Linked DNA regions of Homo sapiens: region 2 is linked to region 1. Evidence: fine-mapped expression QTL. A gene starts in region 1. The other region holds a variant in brackets. All regions are shown on one strand. Distances are between the middles of the regions.

What was found. PIP is the estimated chance that this variant, and not a neighbour inherited with it, causes the effect.
Region 2: its variant is the best candidate, but not a certain one, in a credible set for the expression of LINC01289 in sigmoid colon (GTEx, PIP 0.77).

Annotation. Positions count from the first base shown.
Region 1 is chr8:63,764,772-63,774,094 of GRCh38, reverse strand. It overlaps LINC01289 (long intergenic non-protein coding RNA 1289), which reads right to left and starts at 4,665. Exons shown (of 3, transcript NR_038875.2): 1 at 4,250-4,665.
Region 2 is chr8:63,701,438-63,710,760 of GRCh38, reverse strand. No RefSeq gene overlaps it. Among named protein-coding and RNA genes, the nearest start is that of LINC01289, 63 kb to the left of the region's middle. The variant T/C (reference allele first, on the strand shown) is at 5,293.

The DNA of each region.
Region 1 (9,323 bases):
GAGTTTCAGTTTGAACCCCAGGTCTGTTTTATTGACCTGTTACATGGATGGTGTTTATTTTCTCTCTCCACGGCTCAGTTTCCTGTTCTTCTGATACCAAGATAGTACTTGCTATGGTCTATGTCCCCCCAAAATTCTCATGTTGAAATCCAGTCACCTTTGTGATGGTGTTAGGAGGTGGGGCCTTCGGGCGGGGATTAGGTCATGGAGGCAAAGCACTCAAAGATGGGATTGGTGTCTTTATAACAGAGTCCAAGGGAGCTCCATCACCCCTTCTGCCATGTGAGGACACAATGAGAAGGCTCTGTTCTGTGAAATAGAAAGTGGGCCCTCACCAGCCACCCAATCTCTCAGCACGCTGATCTTGAACTTCCAGGCTTCGGAACAGTGAGAAACAAATTTGTGTTGTTTATCAATTTATGGTATTTTTGTCACAGCAGCCTGAATGAACGAAGACAGCACTTGCTTCCTCACAGGGCGCTGTGAAGATCACAGAACTAAGGGACACTAAGATGCCTACTGCAGGACCAGGAAAAGAATCCTTGCTGCTTTTCTTATTTTGTTCATTATTTCCTTTCTTTAGGGAAAAAGCTTTTCTCCATGTGAGAAAGATGATTCACCAAGACTCTGGGCACAAAGAAGTCATGTGCTCACTATCTCTGGGATGGGGAGTCTCTCCAAGTGTGATTCTCAGGCCAGTAGCACTAGCATCACTATGAGTGTGGAAGAAATGAGATTTCATGGGCCCTAAACTTACCACTGAATCTCTGGGAATGGGGCTTAGGAAAATATATTATAGCAAGGTCTCCAGAAGATTCTGATGGATGACAAAGTCCAAGAACCACTGTTCCACATGATCCCAGCCTAAATGAGATGCCCTTATTCCAGGATTTGTGGGTTATGGGTGCCCCAGGTTCATGTGTTTCTCCTCAGCCAGGTGAGGATCTGAGATCCCAAATGGGCCTAGGAAAGAAACACAGCTTCCTCCTCAGCCCTCAGGCCAGGACTAAGGGCTGGCCAGAACTTCTTCCAAATTCCCTCACCCACATTAATGTTGTTAAATAAAACCACTTTCAGGTGATCTGATCATCACAGTTTTACACACTTATATATAACAAAGGTTTCCCTTTATATTTGTAAAAATTAATCAGAGCGGTCTCAGAGTGAAAAAGGAACACAGCTAAGTGGCTGGCCTGGGCTCCACACCAAATCTTTGACACCAATTCTTTTTCTTACTACTTAAAAGAGATTCATAACAATAGCTTCCAGATTTGATTCCTTCCTCTTTTTTCCTAAAAAGATCCCTTATCAAATCAATATATTCCATGAACCAGACCACATCTGGTGTTTATTTTGAAAGCCTGTACAATTTGGGCTCTATCTTCAGAAAATTCTCTTAGCTTTTAAAAATTACCCTGAGCACATTGTCTTTCTTCTCTCAATTAGCAAAAGGCCTGCTCGTGGCTCAGTCACCAAAAAGAAATAAAAATATACATCAGAAAAATGGAAAGCTATTCTTCTCCCTTAGCCGTTGCAGTAGAGCATAATGACATATGGGACAATGGAGAAATCTGCAGAAAGTTGTTCTGAATTTTAGCCTAAGGACAGGCCCAAATCACTAGTCAGTATTAAAACTATAATCCTAGACTACCTTTAAAATATACTTTGCCCCCATAACTGTGATGATCAAAATCCCATTTTAATCAACCCACCAAAATTTCGAATGCATAATAGAGAAAATATATAAAGAAGAAAGTTATACGACTTTTTAAATCAATGATTCTTTCTCTCTCTCTTTCTCTCTGACCCACACACAAACACACAAATGTGCACGCACAGTCACATAGATACACAACATTAAAAGAAAAAATTACCAATAGTTTTCTCCACACAAGACTAAACTCCGTTCCAAACAGTTTTAAGGCAATGGAAAGGGGTGAGAAAACTTCCTCAGAGATCTGTGAAAGCCTGCAAGATTCCTTGTGATCGAAGGACTGCTTGTTTTGAAGACTAATGAGACTAATGAGTTCTCACTTCTGCAAAGCTCTGGGAACAGGGAATGTCTGGCTCAGTTAGGATATCTGGTAAAACTTACTTTTTATGAAAACAGAGCATTGGTACCTTTTAAGACTTTATATAATAGATATTAAATATTGTGTGCATGAAATCATATTTCACATTATTATTAGGTTTCTAGAAGATAAATGACAATCTTTACATAAGAAAAGAACTTCAGTGCTTCAAATTAAAAAAGTTAACCATGTGTTTTATTAATCAACTTATATATATACTTGAAAATTAAAACAGGTATAAATGTTTCCCCCTTTAAACTATTTTTATATAAATATTTCATTTTAGAACCTCACAACTAAATTACTTCAGATAGTCGTAATATCCACAGTTTACAAATGAGTAAAATAAAACAAAAAGAAATTAAGTGAATTTCCCAAGTTTAGAAAACAAGCTAGTGTCAGAACTACGACCATAACCCAGGTTGCCTGACTCCAATTTTCAATATGATTATTCATATTGAAACTGATGAATGAAATGAAGATATTTGCCAAATATACCAGCCAGAATTGTTTCCAATCATCCCCAAATGTAACTTTGATAGTTCTAGGTAATCCTTAATTTTTGATGTCAATTACATCCTCTACTTGTGGTCTAAAATCAAATTCAGAAATTCAGACAAAAAATACACATGCAAAAAAGTAGAATAATCCTAAGGATGAATATGATACTTGAACTGAAGGGTAAGAACTAAAACTGAGAAATCACCATCTCTGGCACCATGTGTTCATTCAATTCAACCCAAATGACAAATATAATAAGTCAACTACTGCTAGGTGCAGAAAATGAAGTAGTTCCAGACTGCAAGAAACACATAATATTCTATGAATATTAGATTAAAATGAAAGTATGGAATTATATATTTTAAGCAAGCTGTAATCACTATTATATGGTGACAAATTGTTTTTGCAGTAATTAGTTTATGTTGGTAGTTACTAGATTATTGTTACGTGCTTCTAATATGTTGTTGATGTTTTCTAATGATTCAGTTGAAATAGACAAGTTATTACTATAGATTGACAATGTCAAGTAGAAAAAGTTTATAGCTATACCAAATAGATATATTTAATTTGAAATATTTAAATAATAGAAAACGTATATTTGAGCAAACTAATTATTTTGAGAATCAAAAGATTAAATAACTGACACCTTTGGAAAAAAATAATAGGCTTCGAGTGGCATTCTCTCATGCCCAATACTCTGCTGTGCTTTTTAAGGGAAATTACAGCTGCCAGAGTTAATTTAATTTAACATAATTTAATTGTTGAATTTGTATTTTGTACACATCACTGAAGGCCCTAAAGCAACAGTATGCTTTTCTTTAAATGAATCATGTTTTTTACACAGTTTAAAGAAATGATTGGTTTTGAGGACAGTAGTGAACTGCAAAGAACTACCTAAGTATGCAAAATACCATCCAGCAACGTTTCCCTGACACCAATCCACCAATGAATGCGCTAAAAAATTAAGAAGTAGATTTCACTTCTTTTACAAAACATAATTTAGTCTTAATTCCCACTAAATACAAACACCACAGTCACAGAGCTTGGATTAGACCTTATATCTCCCTCACAACTTACCTTCCCTGGCCCCGCTTTCTCCAGCATTCACCCCTGTCCACCTGCATGCTTTAACTCTCTGTGTACAAGAGCATCACATTGTCTACATATATGAGTCTCACATACAATGTATCATTTTATAAGTTGTTGTTAATATCAACAAAAGCACAATAGTCTCTAATCCCAAACAAGCTAATGGATTTACTTAAGGACACTACAATGTAATGAAAAGAAGAATGAAATACTATAAAAAATTATCTTATATCCAGCTTAGGTGATGAACAGTTGTGTGTGTGACTTCTGGATTCATCTGTTTTCAAGTCACAGCTTCTCTCTTCCTGCCTCCTTAAAAGCCCTCATCCTAACAGGTTTCCTGGTCTGAATCTCTAGGGTTCCAGAATAAAAAAGCAGTGCCTGCCCTTGAAAATACTTGCTCCTCTTCCTTTTTGAAGGCAGAATGATATACCTAAAAGCAAATGATTCTGTAATAAGATAGAGTTGCAAGACATACTTAAGTCCTTTTAAATACACGTATAATGTATTTTTCAAATCTTACTGTCTTTTAGGAACTATGTACTTAAGCATTCCTTCACACTAGTAAAAGCAGCTACCATTATTACCTGCATTTTACTGATGTGTTACTTTCTGAAAGTTACAGTCACACTGTAAGTAAAGACAAGAATTTTTTTGATGGTTGTGATCAACACTTAGCTGGTTTTCAGTGGGACGTTCAGCTGTTATATCTTGTTCTTTGTGCTGCCTGACTTCTACGTGGACATTCATTTAGATAGCCATGAATATACTTGATTGCCATATACAAAACTCATGCTGAATTCTGCTCTCATGTTTCCTCTTGTGACAGGGAAGTTACTTTGATCTCCTGGCTTTCGCTTTCAGACAAATGCTTTGCCTTTCTCAGGAACATAAGGAAATCATAGCCTCTCTTCTCTGTTCTGTAGGAGACTTGGTGAAAGTTCCTTAGGCCTCTCTGACACTGACACATACAGTCATTTTTACTTTCCATGCCATGATCGTCATAGGATAGAATTCCCAGAAGTTCTAGAAACAAGTTTGATTGTCCATTGTCCAGTAGTAGAACAGGCTTGGTCTATCTTACCCCCAGGTATCCAAATTTAGTAGAAGTTCTACTGACAATTCCTCTAGAAGCTGAACAGTGGAATGCGGTGGGCAGGAAGCCTCTTTCTCAAAGAATTTTATCAGTTGCTGTCACTTGTGGTGGTGCAGGGGAGCTGGCACAGCCTGACTTGTGAAAGCCAATTGTTAGCATCTCTTCCCAACTTCACAATGAGTGCTGGCACATTGGTGGCTTGAAATCAGCCATGATAAGAGTATTTATACTACAGAATTGAAAACATTACAAATTGCAGCTTTCCACCCACCCCCGACCCCCCTCCCCCAAATGCTGATTTTTAAACATTTGCCAGCATTGCTCAAGCTTCTCTTCAAGTTCCTTTTGCTTCCCCCCAACCAGGAAGAGTTGTATTTTTTTTAAAATACTTTTCTGTGGTTACGGGTGAACATATCAAGATCCATATGTATTCTCAAATCTTCTAGTCTTATAGGTGCTGCAATCCTTCTTGGACTATTAGAGACCTTATATTTAGTGTTCTTAATGAGGATGAGTAAACAGTTTTAAAGAAAGTAGGGGAAAACTGGTTTATACTTCACAAACTATATTCACGAAAATAAGATCATGCACTTGCATGTGAAAAATGTCCTAGTGTGTCCCAAAGGGCATGGTGTTGCCAGAAGGGAGTAGCAGTCTCCTGGGTTTAGAAACTCATTAGAGTGGTCTTCTTTACGGCCTCCAGGAACTGACACCAGTGCTTCCTGCTTCAGGATGCAGACCCTAATTAAAATCCTGGTGATAAAATATCATTGAAAAGTCCACTCCCAGAAACATGAAATAGGTGTACATTTCCTATTCATCCTGCTAAATGCAACGACAAACCATGGACATTATATGTTAAGTAAAACAAGACTCTGGAAGGTGGGGACAAAAGGACAGGCTAGCTAGGGATCTCAGGACATGGGACTGACACAATAATGAGTTCCCTGGGATTTCTCAGACACGGAGCTGAAATAGTCAGCAATCCAGAAACCTAAGACCCAGACAAAAGAAGCCCCAGCAGGATCCCACTCTGTCTAGTCAAAGGACAAAGAAAGGTGTGGCCTCTAGAAGGAAAACTTTTAGATAATCATTATTCTACTCCAGCCAAACATCATGGAAAAGCAAACAACAAATAAACAAAACCAAATAAACAAAAACTGAGGCCTCAGCACCACCCGTGATAGTAAAGGCTAAATGAGAAGCTCAGACTTCCACCCTCCTGTGGCTGTGACAAATGGTCCAAAACCCCCACTGCGTTGGTGTCAGAGAAGGCAAAGGAAGTAGCTGGAACTTTCATGCTCACTAGCTGATGAAGGACTCCTTTCTTCCTTCATGGTATTAGTGGCAAATGTACAGACAATAGGGGATCCCGAACTTCTACACCCTGCATTGCAATTGCTCCCAACATGGTGTCAGTGGAGAACAGTTGGAAAGTCAAACCTTCTGCTCCTGTTCAGCAGCCCAGCAGGACCAGAAATCATCTCCCCACCACACACACACACTCAGGGGTAAATGGAGGCCAGTGAAGAACCTGGGCTTCTACCTCCACCTGGTAGTAACAAGGTAGCCTTCTCCTTCCCCTGCTGGAGTGTATTAAGAAGCTAAAAATGAATAAAATAAGATCCAGAGTCTCATAAGATAAATACAAAAACATTCAGTTTTCCAAAAAATTACTCATAATACTAATAACCAAAGGGTTCTCAAAATGAATGAAAAGCATTTGAATAATCTGACAAAATTTTAAAGCAGCCAGGGTAATAACGATTCAATGAGAAACTACAAACACACTTAAAACAAAGCCTGGCAGAGACACAACAAAAAAAGAGAATTTTAGACCAATATCCCTGATGAACATCGATGCAAAAATCCTCAATAAAATACTGGCAAACTGAATCCATCAGCACAAATAGCTTATCTACCACGATCAAGTTGGCTTCATCCCTGGGATGCAAGGCTGGTTCAACATACACAAATCAATAAATGTAATCCATCATATAAACAGAACCAAAGACAAAAACCATATGATTATCTCAAAAGATGCAAAAAAAGGCCTTTGACAAAATTCAACAGCCCTGCATGCTAAAAACTCTCAATAAACTAGGTATTGATGGGATGTATCTCAAAATAATAAGATCTATTTATGACAAACCCACAGCCAATATCATACTGAATGGGCAAAAATTGGAAGCATTCCCTTTGAAAACTGGCACAAGATAGGGATACCCTCTCTCACCACTCCTATTCAACACAGTGTTGGAAGTTCTGGCCACGGCAATCAGGAAGGAGAAAGAAATAAAAAATATTCAATTAGGAAGAGAGGGAGTCAAATTGTCCCCCTTTGCAGATGACATGACTGTATATTTAGAAAACCCCATCATCTCAGCCCCAAATCTCCTTAAGCTGATAAGCAACTTCAGCAAAGTCTCAGGATACAAAATCAATGTGCAAAAATCACAAGCATTCTTATACACCAATAACAGACAAACACAGAGCCAAATCATGAGTGAACTCCCATTCACAATTGCTGCAAAGAGAATAAAATACCTAGGAATCCAACCTACAAGGGATGTGAAGGACCTCTTCAAGGAGAACTACAAACCACTGCTCAACAAAATCAAAAAGGGCACAAACAAATGGAAGAACATTCTGTGCTCATGGATAGGAGGAATCAATATCATGAAAATGGCCATACTGCCCGAGGTAATTTATAGATTCAATGCCATCCCCATCAAGCTACCAGTGACTTTCTTCACAGAATTGGAAAAAACTACTTTAAAGTTCATATGGAACCAAAAAAGAGCCCGAATTGCCAAGACAATCCTAAGCCAAAAGAACAAAACTGGAGGCATCATGCTACCTGACTTCCAACTATACTACAAAGCTATAGAAACCAAAACAGCATTGTACTGGTACCAAAACAAAGATATAGACCAATGCAACAGAACGGAGCCCTCAGAAATAACACCACACATCTACAACCATCTCATCTTTGACAAACCTGACAAAAACAAGCAATGGGGAAAGGATTCCCTATTTAATAAATGGTGCTGGGAAAACTGCCTAGCTATATGTAGAAAGCTGAAACTGGACCCCTTCCTTACACCTTATACAAAAATTAATTCAAGATGGATTAAAGACTTAAATTGTAGACCTAAAACCATAAAAACCCTAGAAGAAAACCTAGGCAATACCATTCAGGACATAGGCACGGGCAAGGACTTCATGACTAAAACACCAAAAGCAATGGCAACAAAAGCCAAAATTGACAAATGGGATCTGATTAAACTAAAGAGCTTCTGCACAGCAAAAGAAACTACCATCAGAGTGAACAGGCAACCTACAGAATGGGAGAAAATTTTTGCAATCTACCCATCTGACAAAGGGCTAATATCAAGAATCTACAATGAACTCAAACAAATTTAGAAGAAAAAATCAAACAACTGCATAAAAAATTGGGCGAAGTATATGAACAGACACTTTTCAAGAGAAGACATTTATGCAGCCAACAGACACATGAAAAAACACACATCATCACTGGCCATCAGAGAAATGCAAATCAAAACCACAATGAGATACCATCTCATGCCAGTTAGAATGGCAATCATTAAAAAGTCAGGAAACAACAGGTGCTGGAGAGGACGTTGAGAAATAGGAACACTTTTACACTGTTGGTGGGACTGTAAACTAGTTCAACCATTGTGGAGGACAGTGTGGCAATTCCTCAAGGATCTAGAACTAGAAGTACCATTTGACTCAGTGATCCCATTACTGGGTATATACCCAAAGGATTATAAATCATGCTGCTATAAAGACACATGCACACATATGTTTATTGCAGCACTATTCACAATAGCAAAGACTTGGAACCAACCCAAATGTCCATCGATAATAGACTGGATTAAGAAAATGGTGCACATATACACTATGGAATACTATGCAGCCATAAAAAAGGATGAGTTCATGTCCTTTGTAAGGACATGGAAGAAGCTGGAAACCATCATTCTGAGCAAACTATCTCAAGGACAGAAAACCAAACACCGCATTTTCTTACTCATAGGTAGAAACTGAACAATGAGAACACTTGGACACAGGGTGGGGAACATCACACACCAGGACCTGTCGTGGGGTGGGGGGAGTGGGGAGGGATAACATTAGGAGAAATACCTAATATAAATGACAAGTTAATGGGTGCAGCACAGCAACATGGCACATGTATACATATGTAACAAACCTGCATGTTGTGCACATGTGCCCTAGAACTTAAAGTATAATTTAGAAAAAAGAGAGAGAAATACATCCACAGTTATAGTTGGAGACTTCAACATTCCTCTCTCAACAACTGATAGAACAAATAGGCAGAAAATCAGCAAGGAAACAAACGAAGTCAAAAATACCATTAACCAATAAGACCTAATTAACGTTCATGAAACAGTCCACTCAACAACATAAGAATACACATTATTTTCAAGTGCCCATAAAGCATATACAAAGATAGAACACATACTGGATTATAAAACAAGCCTCAACAGATTTAAAAGTATTGAAATCATAGAGAGTGTGTT
Region 2 (9,323 bases), 63 kb after region 1:
AGTCGGAAGTTACAGTGAAAAAAGGGAAATGCAAAAATACTAGTTTTTGTGTCCTGCAAGGTGTAAACAGGGAAAAAATGAAGTTTTTTTTAGAAAGATAGACATGCACATAGATTTTAGAAGAAATTTTTTTGTGTGTGTTTACACTAATAGTCTACAAGGGTGCTCATTTAGTTGTTTTCTGTAACTACTATCAAATTTGGCAGTTCTTTTCTCTCAAGTGATCTATTCTTCTTTTTGTTGTTGTTGTTGTTTGTTTGTTTTTTTCAGTGATTGAGAAAAGGGGTCCAAATACCAAAACAATTGCTGGTTCAAAAACTAATTAATTACCTGATTTTTTAAAAAAACAATTATTTTGAGACCACATTAAAAAATTACACAAAGAGTATGTCCCAACTCAGAAGAAAGCGAAAAATGACTAATGATCTTACCGCATTCAGAATACAAGGATTTGTCAATGAATCATTATTCTTTGGCTTGCTCAAACTCTTTAAAATTGGGCCCATTTTTCTTTCTCCATTTTTCCATTGGCACTGTCTGCTAATTTTAAATTTTCACTTTTTTTGTGTTGAAGGGGAGTGATTTTCATATAACCTTTCAATGACACAAAAGAGAAACTAGAGTTTTCAGTTTGGATAAGGTAGTGCTTCAAATTAGTAACTGTATCTCATATCAGCAGCTATGCTTAGAAACAAACTCCTGCCAAGTCCAAGTGACCAATGGTAATGACAAAGGGGAAAGAGAAATAAAGGCACATGCAAAAAAAAAAAAAGAGCCAGAGCCTCCCACAGAAGGGAAAAAGAGAGGACTGACAGTGTTAAAGAAAATGAAGTTACTATGCCACTGTTTTTTTAATGAGGAATAATATGTATTCATACAAACACAACTGCTAAAAGGATGAGGACACTGTACAGAGTTGTCTTATTGTAATGCATGTTTTAATGCATGAGTATCATAGGCTCTTCTATTAGGATATTTTAGGCCAGTCATCATATCCTGATCTTATTGGAACAAACTGTTTACACTGACTATTAGAATATATAGTATTTTCTTTCTACTTTTGTAAGCATTGTTTTTTTCTAATTACAAAAGTCATATTTTCACATTGGAGAAAATTAAGACCTTACAGAAAAGGATGAAGCAAAAAGAAATCAATAATAATCTCACAGTCCAGAGATGACTTTGTTGGCATTTCACCTTTTTTTCTTACACATGTATGTATATGTATGTGCACACTTAATATAAAAACTTAGAAAACATTTTGATTGTTTTTAAAACTCAATTTTATCACAGAATGGGTAGGTAGTTATTGTAGGAAAACTAGAAAATGTGAGAAAAGCTTTTAAAAAGAAAAATTACTAATAATTCTACTATCCATATATTTGGGTATTTTGGTCCAGACTTTTTTTTTTTTTTTTTTTTTTTTTGAGATGGAGTCTCGCTCTGTCACCAGGCTGGAGTGCAGTGGTGCAATCTCAGCTCACTGCAACTTCTGACTCCCTGGTTCAAGCGAATCTCCTGCCTCAGCCTCCCGAGTAGCTGGGATTACAGGCATGTGCCACCATGCCTGGCTAATTTTTGTATTTTTAGTAGAGACGGGATTTCACCATGTTGGCCAGGATGGCCTCAATTTCCTGACCTCATGATCCACCTGCCTCAGTCTCCCAAAGTGCTGGGATTACAGGCGTGAGCCACTATACCCAGCCTTAACCTACTCTTAATTTAACAATACGTAATGTATATTTGACCAAGTCATCAATTATGTTCCTATAACATGTCTGTTAATGGCTAAATAACATTCTACTGAATAGCTATACAATCATTTAGCCAATATACTGTAGGATATTTGAGTTATGTAAATGATCATTTTCTAACACTTTTTTAATAATAGGTTGTTGTACATTGAGGGTTGTGTGTATGTGATTGGGAGCAGTATGTGATAGGCATATCTAGTCTTCAATCAGAGAACCAAGAGATTCAATTGGTGCTTGGATCTAACTCAATGCCAACAATGCTACACCGGCCTGGCTGCCATTGACTGAGTTTTTAACAGTAGGACTTGCTAAACAACAACTAAAAAAATAGCAACTTTGGTGCAGAGCAGCCACCCTTGGCCCAAAAAGAAAGGTCTGTATTAGCCCCTTTCTCCTGTACAACAGCACTCACTAAATTCACATCTAGAATAGGAGGGGCACTTGGCATTTCATAATCTAACATCATTTCATAAATGCCCATACGCAAGCTCACACTGATCACTGGAATTAATTACTACTCACAGCAACTGTCTGAAGTCACTTTCTCTTTCCAAGTTCTGTAAATGGAAAAAATAAATAGACACAAGACAAGTGGGCTTTCATAAAACAATAGAGGAAATCAAAAGCAAAATGCCCTTACTATTTCTTTTGCTTCCTCATTTAGAAAGGAATTAAAACTAAAATGAGAAACTTAAATGAGAAAGCATGTTAAGAATGTTTTTCTGAGAGGAAAACAGAGAGAGAGGCTTACTATTACAGAGAGGTTTACTCTTTTCAAAAGCATCTGGGAGATCAGGACACAAACCTAAACAATTTATTTAATCAAATCTATCAAAATATTAGTTAATTTTAACTGTATCATCAAACTGGTCATTAGTGTTCATTAGATAAAAACCCCAAGGAAGGGAATGTGCTTGTGTTCCTGTAAATGTGTAGTATACAATTTCTACCTTTTATTGCACTTTGTGATTAAGCCAATGAATAATTTTTAATCAAGTAAACAAAAAAATACTAGTTAAATTGAACAATATGATCAAATGGTCTTCAGTATTGATTTAAGCCCCAGTGATGAGGATTACTGTGTGCAAATATAGGTATGTGCAGAATGTATATAGTATAATTGCTTTTTCCATTTTAAATTCACATATATCTTCCCATTTGAAAGAAAAATGCTGCTCTATCTATAATGCTGCCTAAGACTATCGCCTCTTCTTTCCAAATACCTGAAGAACAGACAAAGTCTGGGGTCTTCCCTGTAGAAATCCTACTGGACAATATTTCTAATACCGACCATTCAACCAAATCAAACTCCTTTTCTTCCGTCAGAATCATTTAAAAATTCAGTCAAAATAATTAAACTAGAATCTTCAAAGGACAACATTCTAAAGTCTTTGTAGGTTTTATAGAACAGAAACAATTTCATTTTAAAGGCAAAAGATTCAGTGAAAGAGAAAGTATAGAAGAATCCTCACAGCAACAGTACTCAACTAAAAATAAGCAGCAGAGATTCAGCCATGTGGAAGAGTTTCTACCTTACAAATCCTTAAGGGTTTGAATAAGAGAGCTTAGAATAATAGCTGTGTGTGGCGCAGTGGAGGAAGTAACACAGCGTATGGTTGGGTTAGGATGTGTCCAGTCAAGTTGTTGTTCCTTTCCTCTGTCAGAGAAACAGGATTCTTGAGCTGTAGAAGGAAAAAAAAAAGCTGGTTATATTTCTGTGCAGTACTGACGATGCTTATTATTCTTTGTTCCTAATATATAGAGGCGCAATGCTGCTAAGAGCCATGGGCTTTAGAACTAGGAGAGCTGGGTTTAAATCCAAGCATAGCAACTGTGTGGTCTTGCTGGGGCTTACAGCTCTGAATTTCAGCTTCTTTCCTTGTGAAATAAAAATGGTAATGCCTGTCCACCTTTCAGGGCAGATATAAGTAGTAAATGATACACTAAGCGTGGGGAAAAGCATAGCACACCACCAGGTATCTGCTAGATATTCAACACATGTTAGCTTTTTTCTTTCCTTTTTTAAAACACACTTTATGACTTGGGCATTTCTTAATTTTCTGCATTATCAAGTTCAAAGCATTCCCTTTGTTTATCCATGTTTTTCCCGTACTTCACCCTGTTTATCATCACTTGATACATATTTACTTGTTTGTTCTCTACTTTCTGCCATTAGAACACTAGCTACAAGAGGTCAGGAACTTTGTTCAATGCCGAATCTTCACCACTGAAAAATATGTCTATCACGTTGTGAGCGTTCAAGAGATATTTGTTGAAATAAAGAATAAATGGCTTATAAATTTGTTTCATTTAAAGCTGTTTCAAGCATTTCTTACTAAAATAGTCGACAACAACACACCCATTTGTAAATAATATGTACATGAATAGTTATCCTGATATATGCGTTTACAGTTCCATACAAAATTAATAGTGCCTTGAACATAATCAACATTTAATCAATATTTGTGAAACATTTAGTAATAAGCTTCTTATTCAACCAATATATATGCATGAGCATGTCTTGAGATGGCAGAAAAGCATCATTCCTCATTTTTGTCCAGAGAAATTAGTGCTCTTTGTGGAGATAAAATACTACAACCATGTATTGCCTAATTACATATATTCATAATTTACCATAACAAGTACTGCAGGAGTCTTGTGAAATACAATAACCTGAAATTGAGTTGTCATGCATGCATGTACATACCTGCAAATATAATGTTATAAATGTATAGGTGTGTTATGTGCAAATATGTGTATGTGCTTGTTAAATGGATCCTTGCCGTCTATTTGTTGAATAATTCATTAACATAGTCACATATGTGTATATAAAACAAGCTATAAAAATGTTTAGACATTGTGGAATAATATCATAAATGCTGGGGTAAATGCTATATGCCAAATGTCACTGGAATGAATTATGAGGGAAAAAGAATGCTGAAGTTTGATCAAAATATTAGATAAACCATGTGAAATAAGCTTAAAAGAAGAAATGCTGTCTATCATGTTTTTATTTACCATCCTATTAATGTAATTTTTTGCCATAGGTAAGAGAAAGAGAGACAGAGGCAGAGAAACAGGGAGGAATGAAAAACATTTCCTGAAAAAAATTCTCAATAGATTTGTGTTGTCATTCAAAATGAAAACCTATGAGCGTGCTCCCCTTAGCTATGGGTCTTTGGAAAACGGGAGACTAGAAACAGGGAGTGAGAAGTTCTGCTTGTAGAGAGAACATGGCCAACCTCCCTCCCCCACACCCCCAGCACTTCAACTCCTGCCAGGCAGGAACCAGAATCTTTTGTAGAACACCATTATAGTATTAGAAAGTAACACAATCATGAAGGAGAGAAGAAAGGCTTGATGTACATCGCCTTGTGACTCTAAAAGGCCCCCTGTGCCGAATATCCGAATATCGCGGCAGCGCGGAGTCGAAGGAAAGGCCTGCCCAGCTCAACTGTCAGGCCTAAGAGCAGCTCTGAAGCTGGTGAGGAAAAACATTCCTCCCCCAAAAGCTTTTATTTATTTTACTTTTTAAAGA[T/C]AGTACAAGAGATAATGCAGCACATTTGTGTAATTTCATCCTGAAGCTTGACATTCTCGATCGCTAAGGGCTCTCAGATCTCACACGTGCATGTCTCAGTTCTCATCCCACCCGCTTCAGGGGAGACTCACGCTTCTCTTGTGAAATGTGCTTGAGAGGTTATCATGGGCATTGGCAGAGGAGGGTAGTATTGATAGATAATTCAGACCTATAAGTGTGCGTGTGCGCGCACACATACACAAACACACACACACACACACTCCATACACAAGCTTAGAAGCTTCTCCTCCCATTGCTCTATCTCTTATCTCATGTAACTCCAACCCCACATCACCTTATCCTGGCCCCCTAATCTTCCTCCCGCCCCCACCCGCGCCCCGGAGAACAGACTGACATCTTCCAACTTGATATGTTACCTCCTCAGTAAGGAAACAGGAAAAATCCAATAAAATAATATCTAACATCCTGTAACACTGACACTGCCTCCCCGACAATATCTCCTTCCCCCCATACACACATATACATGCAGACACCCAATTTTTTGCCCCACCTTACAATGAAATTCTGGCTGTTTCCTAGGCCTTTGCAGATGCTCAGGCCCAGTACATCTGAAATCTACGAGCTGAGGGTAAAATAAATACTAGATGTGCAAAGGAGCCAGAAGGAACCATTGCCTTTTCCCAGACGAGAGTCAGGGAGAACAAGAACGTGATTCCTTCCCCATAACAGGTCTGTGAAAATTATGCCTAAAATGGGGAGGTAGAAGAGGGGCAAGAAAAGGTTAAAGAAAAATGGACAACCATAAAAAGATTTATAATTTACTTTTAAAATAAATCAGCAAAGGGAGACCCAATCTGCCATTTACTCCGAGGGCTCTGGGATTCCACGCTGAATAATGTGCCATGGCCCATTTTGATCTGTACTGAAATTAACAATCAGTCCTCCACTTTATGAATTATTATCTTTGTTAGCTTTACCACTAACAGAAATACACTTCCAATGTTTCACATCCACACACTACATCTATTAAAGCAATCTGGGAAATTAGTTTGAGATAAACTGTACAGCAATTTTATTCATAGCTTCCCTGTATCTCACACTGTTAATCTGCATCACAGCTCACTAAATAGTGCCTAATGTTTATTGCATTTAACTGAATGTATACGATTCTGAGGGTACGCCAGGGACCGATTATCATAATTATACATGTTTCTATGGAAACCCACAAGTCTATCAGTTTTGATTCATTATATTGTTATACCTTCTAGCACTTTCTAATTATTAGGTGCCCATAAAAAGTCTCAGTCTTGCTGTTACTATAGAAATGAGCTATAGACAGGCCTCCAATTGTTAACCCTTAAAGAACCAAAATATATAGAATCAGACAGTTGGTAAGCTAGTCATGAAACTGAAATAGCTAATAATTTTACCTATTACTTAAATTTATAATTGATTTGCTGTTATTAATTTCTGAAACTCTTTCACTTAGACAACTCATGAATGATTGCCTCAGATTTTATAAAATTGCTCTGACTTTGAGGTTCCCTATCCCTGATATACACCCTCAGGTATGATAAAAGATACACAAAAACTAATGCAACACTGAATTAGTGAGCACAAAGTGCAAAATGAAAAGTCTTTCAGGACCGATTCCTTATTTCATAGATAAAGACACATTTGCTGGTGTAAACATAGAATTATATGTTAACTGATAAAACAGATAAATCAGAATATAATAGTGAGAACTCAAATGCACTGAGAGTCTTTAAATCAAGCATCTAAAATTGCTTCAGAGCAATATGGCTATTTAAGTATAATTTAATATTGCTGCTTAAATTGCAATTTGTAATTTAATATTTTCATTTTACTTTTTCTTCTACATTCACTAACAGAATCCCGTGAAAATTGAAAGGGACCAAGCAGTTTCATTGTCTCTCTAACCCTCCTGCTATTATAGTTTTCAATTAGAAGTGCCTTTTAATTTAGATCAGGAAAGCTCTCCTAAAGTGACAGCTCGCCCTTCACACTGCATATCTATTTATTTCGGAAGTCAACACACTATTCAATAACCTGAGAACAGCCCTGATTGCTATGCTAATAGTATTCAGAAATATGTCGACACCGATCGAAACAAGTAAACTAAGGCTAATTCATAAAGTGAATAATAAAAGGCAGAGGAAAGCCTTTCATACTTACTACTTCAGCTGGAATCTTAAGCTTACAAATTTAATTTTTTCTCCTCCCTTAGGGAAATGAACGCTATGTGATAACCAAACTGAAATTAGATTTTACCTAATATTACAGCCTAGCCTATTTGACGCGGCTTGTTTTATTATATAAAGCTGCAGTGGGAAGCAGCAGAGACAATGACCGTATATGTTAATGCCTGTGTGAGCTGGGAGATGCTTGCTCCAGCCGCAGCTTTCTTTAGCTCAAAGCTAAATGCATTTTGCTTTTTGAGGTTGGGGGAGGAGAGGGAAAGCCACAGAATTTTAAATGTATGCCCACATTAAAAAACAACAGCACATGTTAGGTAACCATTTTTTTCATATTACAGCCCAAACCACCAACATCCATAGTAACTCCCCACCAATTAGGAATAAATCAAATTGTATAAGCAACAAAAGATACAGACATTTGCATGTTTAAGTTCAAACTCTTTAAAAAAAAAAAAACAGAGAACGGATCAAAGCCTTTTGTTCACAGCTCTTATGTAGCTGTTAGCATTAGAGAAAAGTAGATTTACTACTAAATAGGAAATTTAAAGTAGATTAAGAGTAAATTGAGTTAGATACTTTTAAAAACCCATTCATCAGTACATGCATGTATTATTGCATATATGTGTACAGCCTGGAAATCAATTATATTTATTTCACATTAAAATTAGTCTCCTCCCCATATTCAGACATTGGTTATTCAAAATAATTCAACTACATCTACATTTTTTTACTTAACCATAAAAATTAAACTAAACTTCAACAATAAACATTATATTTTTCACCTTGTTTATGCTTTCACTCCCATAATTATCAATTAGTTTTTCAACCCAATTCACCAACCTTTTTTAAAAATCTCTAGAGCCTATTCCTACTTTTACAACTAGGCAGATATATACATAGGTTGATAAACTCTAACAAAATATATAAGTAAGCAGAAAATACACTAACATTTCTAGACGAGTGAAAGAACTGTATGAGGAGAATAATGCTACTAGGGCCAAAATTTCATACACTCGATAAATAAGCCTTAAAAGTGACAATAAAAGATTCTGAAAGCAAGTGGAACCTGGCGTGTGCTTTTAGAGAATACCTAAAGATCACTGTTAGGTTAGTGAATCCTCGGGGGCTTATATGGGGGTCATATGTTAGGGTCACAAGGGTGATTAGGCAAAGAAAGCAGAGAAAGTAAAGCGTTCAAGCAGCAGGCATATTACCACCTGGGATTTCATTTATTTCCTAGAGATAGAGTCAAGGTAGGTCCCTGCATGGCAAAACTATGAATTAATTATATTCTGCCCCCACCCAGTGAGCATTAAGTGCTCAGATTTTCTTTTTGGGTGGTGGGGGAAAGATGACTTATCATTCACGGTTGGATGTTAAAATCCCAGAGGAGAGAACCAGTAAAAGCAGCTCCTAGTGACAAAAATCCAGTAGCTGTACCATGACTATCCATCAAACTGAAATGTTTTAGGATTCATATTTATTTGCACCACTTTGCCACTGAGGAAAATGTCTAGTCAACTAGAGAACGTCTAAATTCTTGCTTTTTGATTCTTATAGGAAAGGTGAAAAGACATCAGTGAGTTGTGATTTCCTTCAGCAGCGAACGGATTCCTTTGAGAAGGCTGGTCAGTGGCACAGGCGGCTCACAGACCCACACGGCAGGCCTTGGGCATTGTACTAACCCCATGGGTCATTTCTGCAGACCAGTGCTGGCCAGGCCCTGGACAGAGGGGCCAGGCCTGGCTTCCCCTCCTTGAGTGTCAAGGGTGAAGTGAGAAGATAACGTTGTCTCTGAGGTTTGTTATTCAG